Homo sapiens: one gene and its partners. The protein of the gene in region 2 purifies or fractionates together with the protein of the main gene of each other region. This does not show direct contact. Each region holds a gene or a part of one and is shown on either strand. Other genes may lie near its edges. The genes, in order: USP47, AVIL and DDX11.

Region 1 (3,749 bases), on a different chromosome or scaffold from region 2:
AGTACCTAGTCCCTAATTGGAGTTCAACAAACACTAGTGTTCCCTTTCTTAGTAGCTCAGAAAGTTCCCAAGGCAAGAATTCTGATTAACTCATCTGTTTATCTGCTTTGCACAGAGTTGGTGACGCTTGATGAACAAATACTGACACATAACTCTCTGCCTTTTACAAAAATCGTCCTTGCAAAACAACTATCACTGCCCTTCTGACAAAGCTGGGAAAATACTTGTATCATACAGGTACATAACTCCAATAATATCACCCTTGCATACTGTCAGAGCTTGCTTAAGTAACAAAGAATTGCTACAAAACAAGTAAAACAGGCACAAAAAAATTTAAGAATCTGTAATGATCACTCATTAATTTCAAGATCGCACACAGTTAATTTCAATCCAACACTTGTCTCTATTTAAGGTATATGAGAAATAAAAATCCAAAGCATTAGCCTGATGATCAGCCAGTTAAAAATACACATTTGAATACGCCGAAGATATTTATAAAGCCAACAGAGATACTATTAATACGTTGAAATTCGCTGGCCAGTGCTGGATTCTACCCTAAATCTTCTACTACTATTCAAGAGAAGCCAAGTAGTCAAGGCTTCTCGTATCACTTGCTTTTAAGAATTTAAGAAGTCACTCAAATTGGCATACACAACCCAACCTCAAAAAAAAAAAAAAAAAAAAAGAGTTCAGCTCTCCATGTGGTAATGTTCTCCTATCTCCTTCCTTTACATTAATGTCCCATGTACTACTTTTCCACGATCTTCGGTAGGCCCCATTTAGGCAGGCCAATAGTACTACCAAGTAACAGGAGTTGAAAAAAGTCGTAACAGTTAAGTCTGCCCTCCCACAGATCTCACTTGGGTGTAGATTTCACAAGCGCTGAAAGCTATACGCTGCCACTGTCAAACCCAGAAGCAGCACCGTCACCCTGCCGTGCCCATAGGCAACTGTTCCAGAATGTTTTCTTTGAAATGATCTCTCCCGGCTCCACACGTTAAACAAGAACTTAAAAGGCCACCTTCTCCCCTAGAGCAGAACCTGATTCTTTCCCGTCCGCTCCTTTATTCGTCCAGCCCCATAAAACCCGAGGCGGGAGGTCCGCTCCCCGGCCCCTAGAGCCAGCGGGTCTCCCAACTGCTCGCCGCACCCACCGTCCACCCCCGACTGCCTCACGCCTCCTCATTCCCCCACAGCCGAGCCTGCACCCCGGCCGGGCCCGCAGCCGAACCCCGGCCCGGGCCTGTGTTGCCTCGAGCGGCCGCAGGCCTAAGGCCTAACCTCCTCTGGGGCCCCTCACCTCTTTCGGGACCAGTTGGTTCTCCTCGCCGGGCACCATCGCTGACTCCGGCCGCTCCTCTCCGCCCTGCCGGGGGAGGGTGGAGGGTGGCGGCGGCTCGCTAGCTCAAGAGAGAATGGCAGCGGCAGTCATCCTCTCCGCCGCCTGCGCTCCAGCAATAGCGGAGGCCTCAGCCTGGGCCTCAGACACCAGCGCGCAGACACCGACCCAGGGCTCCGCCGCCGCCGCCGCCGCTACCACAGCCGCCTTCGTCGTCGGCCCCTCCCCCAGCCCGCTGCAATCAATGGAAAAATGGCGGCGGCCGCTCTCGCGAGAATTCGGCCCGTCGGGCTCCAAGCCCGGCGCCTGGCGTCGGAGGTGGCCGGCACTTGTCGCTAGCTTCTAGTCACCTCGGCTCTTCCTCAGCCCCGGGAGGTACAGAATTGGCGAGACAGCCATGCAAACGCTTTTCGTTAGAGGAGAGCTGGACGTTCCATCTCGGGACTCCCTCTGCCGGCCGGGGAAGGACCAGGCCCACTGTCCTCCCTGCCTTCTCGGGCTCTTCGGACTCTCTGCCCTGCAGGGAAAGACTCGAGCCGAAAGCCCCATCTCTGACCCTAGCAACTCATACCCTTCTGGCTTCCCTTTAGCAAAGCGCCTGGACGTCATCCCCTCTTCAGATACCCCAGGCCTCGTCCTGGTAGAGACACCACCGCGGGCCACCTCCCGGCCCCCGCCCTTAGACACGGCTCTGGCCCTTCCAGTCAGAATGGACAGCGTTTTATTTGCTCCCGTTCACTCTCCTGACGTTCTTTTCCCCTCTCCCCACCCTCCCTCTCAAGGGCCCCCAGCTGGAGGGACCTCAGGGGCCACCCCCTGCTTGGGGAGGCAGCCACCCCTTCCCTTATGAAGCGGTGTCCTCACCGCCCGCCCCCCGCAACTACATTGGAGAGGCGCTCCCCTGCCCTCTTCCAGGGAACTTCCTTCTCCATCAGGGCCAAGTCTGAGACTGAGCTAGCCTTCCAAGAGTAGAGCTGCAGTATGCTTCAACCTGTGATCTCCGTTAACAAGGTTTTTAGAGAATTTTAATCTTCTCTAGTAGTAAGCATGGTGCTTTGTGTTATACTAAACAAAGTTTGCAGAAGTCATTTCTCCAAATCCTGCTTCCATTATGGAGACTCGGCGGGGCTCCTTCATGAAGACTTTTATGGATACAGTGATCTTACAGCATGCTGAGATAATATAATCTTGTCATGTTCCTAACACCCACAGCATTAACTGCCTGCACTTGTGTTCTCCAAACTTTTTTTTATTGTAATCCCGTTACCAAAAAAAAATCCATATACTTATATAAGTTTTATACGTGTCCTGCTGTGTGCAGAATTATAAAACATTTGTAAAATGTAAAAAGGCTAAGACAAAGATGACATAAACATTTAAAATAACTTAGTTATTTTCCATATTAATGGTATAAAAATCTTTGTTATTCTCACTAAAAATATTTAAGGAAATCAATATGATTGACTAGGTTTCGTTAGTTTTAAAAATCTTTAATACTTCGTGAAATAGTTATTAAAATATCTGATTGAACGTCAGGTTATTTTTGTACTTGGTTTTAATGGCTGTCATAAGCTGAAAAAAAGGTAACTCACAAAGATGTAGATCCTAAAGGAGGAAGTACATCTTTGGCCACTCTTCCTAATGCATGTTTAGAACGATTTAAAAAAAAAAACTGATATGAAAAAAGTTTCATTTTTATCCATTCCATCCAACAACCATGCAAAGGTTTTTATTGAAATTCAGCTAGTAGTGTTCCATCTTTCCTGATGTCAACCAGAAGATGTTGCATTTTTATATTTTTACAAATGGGTTCAAAGCTCTTTGGAATAAATTGCTTAGAAGATTTTTAAGAAGTTGAAAATTTCTATCTTCAAGTTTTAAGTATTCATGTATGAGTTTTGGGAGTTATAGATCTTGTCTTTAAGGTTTTGATATTTTGATTATCATGGATTGATTAAGATAAATTTTGACTTTTTAAAATATTGTATTAAGATTAGTTGTCTTGATTATTGAATTTTTGGCACCCCCCCCTTAAATTTTGTGCCCAAGGTGAACGGTTTTCACCTTGAAAACCATTTGCTTCACCATAGTCCCAGACTTGGGTGGCTCACATATATCATTTTTGCATCAAAATCACATGATGGAAATATTTCCAAACTTTTATTTTCAAAATGTCATCCCATGACTTAGTAAGGTGTCTTCTGTAGTGCTGGCCAGTGCTGTAGTGCTCACCCTAGAAGTAAAAATGTCATCTCTGTCATCTTTTTTGCTTATGCTTGCAATATTATTTCAAACTCATGTTGTCTTTCCAGAAATCCTTTTTAGTCACTTTCATTTTAGTAAAGGTTGATATAATGAAATAAGAATGTAATTGATAAATCTACTTAACCCAGCCCACATAAACTGGAAT
Region 2 (3,749 bases):
CTGGGTGCTAGCAGGGTGTGGCCTGGTCTGGCCTGCGGACAGATGGCTTCCTTTTTCCCTCCCACACAGACCCAAGCTTCTGTGTGGAAGCGTGAACCTCAGACACTTAGACGTCTCCAGTTCCTTCAGGATTGAGCAAGTCAGGGTGGGGAGAGGGGGGAAGTGGTAAAGATCTAAGTCTGTGTAGGTCGTGTACCATCTGTATTCAAGGAGCATCTTGGGTAATTAAGCACCTACCCATGTCCAAGGCCACGTAGAGGCTTTATAGAATTAAAATACCTGCTCTCAAGGAGCTTGAAATCTGATAACATGCATAATTAATGTAAAGCTAGATTAATTTCTCCCAAGAGGCAAAGGAAAAAGGATGGGGTTGATGGATTTATGTAAGATTTAAAAATTCACCCAGAAAGGACTGTATGCATTTTTGCTGTTTGGGGACATACTGTTTGTTAAGAGGAACATGTCTGACCATTGTTTTCTTGAACCTTGATGGACAAAGCCAAGTTTGGAGAGCATGCGCCATCTAGTATGGACTTTGGCAAAAAACCATAAAGCTCAAAGCAGACTCGCTTTGTCTACTGCTGTAGCAGGACTAAAGCAAGGCAATGGTGCGGAGCAGCCAGTGTTTGAGAATTTAATTTGATAACTTGTGCTGCCCCACCCTGTGCTGCTCAGAATTGCCAGGAAATATGGTGTTTGGGTTTTCTTCAGACCCTACGTAGCAGTCATTAAAGGCAAAAGCCATGAGCCAACTAGGGGAAGGGGACAAGGGCCACTGAATTCATTCCTTGGAGACAGAGAACTGTCACCCTGGTAAAAGCCAAACCAGCCGGCAGCAATTAGGACTGTGAGCCTCAGAGGCTGAAACCTGTCCCGTTTCCCAGCAGGAATTTAGGAATCAAGGAGCTCCCTGGGCCAGGCACCCCGAATGCGAGAGGATAAGCTCCAGGAAGGGACTTCCTGTCACACTGGAACACACAGAAAACACAGTTCTGACATCAAATCTCCCAAAGCTGGGTCTCTCCTTCTCCCTAAATCCTAATTCAGTATCCTTTGAGAGGACTGCAGAAACCCCTTGGGTGTGGGGCACAGTTTTGAAATGTCAGGTTAAAAGCCAGTGGCCTGTAATTCTCAGAGATGCCCTTTTGGACGGACCCTGAGCAGAGGAAGCTGTTTTTTGTTGTTGTTGTTTTTGAGACAGGGTCTTGCTCTGTCACCCAGGCTGGAGTGCAGTGGTACAATCACGGCTCACTGCAACCGCCACCTCCTGGGCTCAAGTGATCCTTCTGCCTCAGCCTCCTGAGAAGCTGAGACCACAGGTGTGCACCACCATGCTTGGCTTTTTTTTTTTTTTTTTTTTTTTTTTTTTTTGTAGAGACAGGGTCTCACTATGTTGCCCAGGATGGTCACAAGTTACAAACTCCTGGGCTCAAACAATCCTCATGCCCTGGCTTCCCAAAGTGTTGGGATTACAGGTGTAAGCCACCTCTCTGGGCCAGGAAGCTGGTTTTAACTCCTCCTGCCTTGCTCCATACCATCTTTCTCTAGGGATAGGTGAAAGGGGTCTGTCTTTCCCAGCTTTTGAAAATGTGCCCTATATGTTCAGCTGCCTCTAAGGGGTTCTTCTGAACAAGAAGTTTGCAAAACTGGCCAGCCAGACTCCTGGTTCATTTTAAAAGCCTCATCTCAGAAGACAAAGCCAAGGGACTCTCAAGCTCCTCTTCCTTTCATTTCTTCCTCATTCAGGAGGATTAACTGGCATGCCCCCGTAAATCAGAGACCTTACCTTGCCTTCTCGCTCACCAGCCTTCCCAGTTTCCCGGCGCGTAAGCAGCAGCAGTATTGAAGAACCACTCCAAAGCAGGAGGCTCCAGGTCCTGCTGCCTTAGCTTAGTAATGGCCGCAGAGATACTGGGTTATATTTGCTTGTGTTTGCATCTTAACCGCATTTTCCTAGTCCTGGCCAATCAGAGCCAACCTAGCACTGAGCTTGGCTTATTCAAACCAGAGGGAAAGCTTTATCTGTGCCTATTCAAAACAGCAAAACAGAAGAGCAGACTTTTAAAGGCTTCTTTGAACTCCAGCTCCACGCCCTGATCTAATTGATTTTTTAAAAAGTGCACACAGCCCATCAATAATGCAGGAAAGAGGTTGGAAGGATATGAAATTTGCCATATTGTAGATATGGATGCATTATGGTGATGACAGGAGGAAGAGGCTGGAGCTGCCCCATGAGTGCCTGTGATGTCTAGGTTGGCAAGAGCCTCCCTAAGAAGCTTCTGGCATTTCTCAAAGGGAGGGGAAGTCTGGGAGAGGAGCCAGAATTTTATTAGGCCACAGTTTTGCTCGTTGGGGTCTCTACTAGTCATACAGTAAACCAATCAATATTTGAGTGCCTGCTGTTTGCCAGGAACCATGCTGGGCTCTCAGCTTCAGGGTTTCCAGTTTGGAAGAATCAGTGAGGGGCAGAGAAGAATCAAGACTCCATTCCCAGGGCTGGGTGTGGTGGTGGCTCACGCCTGTAATCCCAGCACTTTGGGAGGCTGAGGTGGGTGGATCACAATGTGAGGAGTTTGAAAACAGCCTGGCCAAGATGGTGAAACCCCATCTCTACTAAAAATACAAAAATGAGCCGGGCGTGCTGGCAGGCGCCTGTAATCCCAGCTACTCAGGAGACTGAGGCAGGAGAATCGCTTGAACCTGGGAGGTGGAGGTTGCAGTGAGCTGAGATCATGCCACTGCCTCTAGCCTGGGCAACAGAGCAAGACTCCATTTCAAAAAAAAAAAAAAAAATAATAATCCATTCCCTTAGGGCTTCTGGTTCATGCCCAGAAGTCAATAGGACATCAAGCATATACACGTGCTAAGCACCTGACTGCAATGGGGTTGATCACAGCAGAACTTGTGTAACCTTGAGCGGAAGCCCTGTGTGGCATCTGCAGCTGGCCTCCCGGTGGGTGCAACACCCCACTCAGCCCGGGGGTGCAGCTGCTTCATGATGGAAGGGGTTGCGAGAAGAAAGGCGGTGCTTGCCATGGGCCCAGTGAACACTTAAGGGCCAATGAAGGTTGGTGGCAGCTCACATTCCTGGAAAGGTTTTTTAAACCCACTTTTATTAATTAATTGTAAGTAATACAAATATTCCAAAAATATAAACAGACACTTAATGGCGTCCTGCATTTCAAGTTTTTGAATACAACAAATTTATCAAACCATGAATCTGTAAGCAAGGTAGTCAGAATCCCATAGCCCAGTCACAGTGGGAAGCAGATCCCCTACCCTCCAAATGGCATCTTGAAGGGGGAAAGCGGCACGAAATGGAACATGATAAGCAAAAAAGCTCACGAGGCCCAAAGAGGAGGGTCCGCTCCATGGGCAGGCCCTACAACGTTAAAAGAATGGGGCAGCTGGCCCGACCTCTGGCCTCCTCTTCCCTGGCTGAATGTAAATATTTACCAGCATTTAGAAAAAAGGAGAAAAAAGACAGAACTAAACCCGTTTAGGAAAAAGGGACCGAGGGACAGCAGTGGTTAAGTAATCCACTGAGGACCTGAAGGGGAAAATGGACTTACCTTTCTCATATACTTGGCCTGGCTAGGACACTGGGTGCCAGACAGCCTTCTGAGGGGATTTTCTTTCTAAATGAGGCCTCAGGAACAGGTAGGGGCAGCAGAATAGAATAGCATCCATTTCCCAGAGAAAGACTGCCTTTACATTTCCCATGCTTTTAGCACAAAGCAGCGTCTGGG
Region 3 (3,749 bases), about 27 Mb from region 2:
CAGGACTCAGAACTAGGTGCTTCGACACCTCATAGGCATTCAACAAAAATCTGATGAACGAATGAGTAGCCAGCCAGACATCGGGGCTGTAAGTGAAGGTTTCTCTTCCGAGGCTGGGTAACGGAGGTCCCATGACTTGAATACCTATTAGTTAAATGGCCAGTTCTTTAATGGTTTCAAACCGTTTTCAGATAACCCCACAAAAACCCTGTGTGGTATTTTTATAAGCTCTATTTTATAGAGAAAGAAACTGAGACTCAGTAAACTTATATGACTTGCCCAAGGTCACTCAGCAAGTGCTTGAACTCAGGATTTGAACCACATCTGCCAGACCCCCAAGCCACCTGAAACTTTCTATCTCCTCACTTTTCCTCCCACCAGGATAAGTGGGATAAAAAAGACAGACTTGGTTACCAAACTCTAGAATGACAACACTAAACAATACAGAAGAAACGTAAGTATTATTTCACTTCCCCATCAGTGGTAATTATGGATCTCATTATTCCAGAAGCAGCACAGGCTAAATCATAGAGGTTTAGATAAATCTGAGTATAACGGATTCACTAAGCCCTATTAAAAACATTTGCAGTGACTTGTTCAGCCCTCTTCAGGTTGGCTGTGTGGAGGACAACCATCACCTCCCAGTGCCAAGGCACACACCAGGACAGCAAAGCTCACGCTCATAAAACGAGGTTAGAGTTGTGAAAGCACTTCAGGAACATATTAGTTCTTAACGTGTTCATTTTCTTCAGTCCCCAATTATCACTCATTACTGAGTACAGACTATTGTTGTGGGCTCAGTTGTGTCCTCCCCACATTGATCTTGGACATCCCAAGCCTCTGGGACTGTGAGAAAACACATTTCTGTGTCTAAGCCACCCAGTTTATGGTATTTTGTCATGGCAGCCGGGGCTGACCAAGACAACTATGTGGCAGGTACTATCTACCGTATGGCCCTAAAATGTTTTAACTTCACACACCTGGAAAGCACCACAGCCCCAAGAAAAAAGCTTTTCCGCACTGCTGTTAAGCCAGGGCCACACACTGCAGTACTGCGGTGCTCCACCAGCTGGAGGATGGCCTGGCCCATAATACCCGCATTCCCACCTTGCTCTGGCCCTGTGTCCCCTCCAACGTGCATCCTGAGCTCGCACCCTGTGTGGAACCCAAACAGCTGCTTATCAGCATTTAAGTCCATTTTTATGACACTTCCGTCAACAATCTGGTCAAGTGCACTCATTCCTGGCCTCCGTACTGTACCCTGCTCCGCCTCGATTCCCGCCCTGGGGGAAGCTAGACTCATGCAGCTAACTTTATCGGCTCTGGGCTCTGATTGCCAAGTTTAGGATCCCAGCTGTATCCTTGCTAAAGTTAGCATCGCTGGGGCTCAGTTTCCGTAAGAGACAGGTGGGTTACAAGCGCTCACTCACTGTTGCAGTGTCTTATCTACGTAAGATAATCCATGAAAAGCTCAACACAGCTGGGCCAAATCTAAGACCCAGACACGCGGCTGCTGTTAATGCCCACTTCTGCGCACCGCCCAGTTCCACCGCAGGCACAACCTTCCTAGGCCTACCCGTCCCCACACAGGGGTTCCCGCTTGTCAATCACGCTGGCCCGGCCCTCCACTTCCGGAATGTTTTCCCGCTCCGGACGGGCCACCCACCTTTGCAAATAGGGGTCCGGCGCCGGAACAGACGCCCAGTTTGCGATTTCACCAGTCTGCCCTTCCTCGTCCCGCTGCTCCTCGTCCTAAGGAGCTCTGCTGCCACACAGCACTGCGCTCACCTTCTTCGCCGGCAGAATTGCTACGCTGAAAGCCAGGCCCCGGGAATCAGGGCAAACGCCACTGAGTTAGAAACTGGCGGGTCCCCTCAGTGAAAGGCAGCCGGAACAACCCCCGCCGCTGCGCATGCGCACTCCGGGACGCGCGCGAACACGCAGCAGCGAGAATCTACAGGGGCGTGGTTTGCGCACGCGGGAACTGGGATCTCAACCCCAGGGCTAGGTGCCTCCTCCCGCTGCTTTCCGCCAGCTGCGGGGTGTGAGATTAATCCCCGCCGATTAGCGCCAGGTGTACTAAGCGCTGGATGGTTCCCTGACCAGATGAAACATCAGCCGATGTTCTAATGCCGGTCCCCTGGGCGCTGTCCCCGAGAGGGAAAACCTGTTTTCTGACCCCGGCTCTAGTCGGCCTCTGGAGGTCTGCAGCTGGGTTATTTTACCTTTGAAACGGACGACACCTGCCCCGTGCACCCCAGCGGCTCCTCCACACGGAGAGATGGTGTCAGTCAAAGGCCGTCTAGATGACGAGTTTATGAAATTGTTCCTGGCCCGTGCCGGGCACGACCTTGCAGAGAGCCCAGAAGATGAAACCCCAGCCCTGCCAGGAGCTCACCTGCTAATTAGGAGGACAACGAATCACCTCACCTCCCTAGACTTTGCTTCTCCTTTATTCAGTGAGGGATTGGACTAGCTGGTCCTTGAGGACTTTTCAGAAAGTCTGGTTCTGGGAGATGACCAATGGGATCATCTTATGCTATGAGCTTTCCTGGAATGACAGGTAATTGGTGCGCCTTCCCAGCAGGGTCAGGGAGAGTTGCTGGGACTTGAAGGAAAGGCTTTTGGGGAGAGGAGCCAGTGTTACAAACTATCGAAAAGCTTGGAGGTGGGAAATTTACAAAAGGTGATTCCAGGGTCAGCTTTTTTGTCACCTGCTTCCGACTTCGGCAGTTTGGAGAGGGCGAGTAAGTAATACCCTTCAGGGTCTTGGGATGTGGCCCAGCAAAATCCTTAGAGGGACTTTGAAGTCTTAGTTTTAAGTTTAGAATTAATGGGCAGAGTACTTAAATAGCCATTTCTCCAAAGATGTATACAAATGGCCCACAGGCCCATAAAAATGTTGCATTCCACCCTATAACATGTTTTTGCATAAAAAAGTTTTAAAATAACTGTTGTCTGGTAAATTGACACCTCTGGAATAGAATGTATGCTAGGTTTTTTACCCTACTGCTTCAAACCCCATCCTACACACACACTCCTAGGGTGTGCATCATCCAGTTTAAGAAGCACCCTTGGAGAAACAAAGTTGATAGTGTGTCCAGAATTGATGGGTTCTTGGTCTCACTAACGCAAGACTGAAGCTGCAGACCCTCGCGGTGTTAGTTTTTAAAGGCGGTGTGTCTGGAGTTTGTTCCCTCAGATGTTCCGATGGGTTTGGAGTTTTTTCCTTCTGGTGGGTTTGTGGTCTTGCTGGCTCAGGAGTGAAGCTGCAGACCTTCGCCTGAGTGTTACAGCTTTTAAGACGGCATGTACTGGAGTTGCTAGTTCACCCCGGTGGGTTCGTGTATCTCACTAGCTTCAGGAGTGAAGCTGCAGACATTTGCAGTGAGTGTTACAGCTCATAAAGGCAGTGCAGACCTAAAAAACAAAAAGAACAAAGCTTCCATACTGTGGTAAGAAAATCCTAGTGAGTTACTGCTGCTGTCTTAGGGCAGCCTGTGTTTATTCTCTTCTCTGGCCCCACCCACATCCTGCTGATTGGTCCATTTTAGAGAGAGCTGATTGGTCTGTTTTACAGAGAGCTGATTGAGCCGTTTTGACAGGGTGCTGATTGGTGCGTTTATAATCCCTGAGCTAGACACAAAAGTTCTCCAGGTCACCACTAGATTAGCGAGATACACAGTGTCGATTGGTGTATTTACAAACCGTGAGCTAGACACAGAGTGCTGATTGGTGCATTTACAAAC

What was found.
Region 1: the proteins of AVIL (region 2) and USP47 purify together in Homo sapiens (co-immunoprecipitation; 3 studies listed by BioGRID and IntAct, with this or other methods). This does not show direct contact.
Region 3: the proteins of AVIL (region 2) and DDX11 purify together in Homo sapiens (affinity purification with mass spectrometry; 2 studies listed by BioGRID and IntAct, with this or other methods). This does not show direct contact.

Annotation. Positions count from the first base shown.
Region 1 is NC_000011.10:11,839,776-11,843,524, reverse strand, and holds the start of USP47 (ubiquitin carboxyl-terminal hydrolase 47), read right to left. Parts: upstream 1,554-3,749; 5' UTR 1,340-1,553; coding exon 1,301-1,339; intron 1-1,300. UniProt on the Homo sapiens protein: Ubiquitin-specific protease that specifically deubiquitinates monoubiquitinated DNA polymerase beta (POLB), stabilizing POLB thereby playing a role in base-excision repair (BER). Acts as a regulator of cell growth and genome integrity.
Region 2 is NC_000012.12:57,816,843-57,820,591, forward strand, and holds the start of AVIL (advillin), read right to left. Parts: upstream 1,893-3,749; 5' UTR 1,787-1,892; exon of another isoform or gene 1-1,786.
Region 3 is NC_000012.12:31,072,009-31,075,757, reverse strand, and holds the start of DDX11 (ATP-dependent DNA helicase DDX11), read right to left. Parts: upstream 1,899-3,749; 5' UTR 1,667-1,898; intron 1,494-1,666; exon of another isoform or gene 1,214-1,493; intron 1-1,213. UniProt on the Homo sapiens protein: DNA-dependent ATPase and ATP-dependent DNA helicase that participates in various functions in genomic stability, including DNA replication, DNA repair and heterochromatin organization as well as in ribosomal RNA synthesis.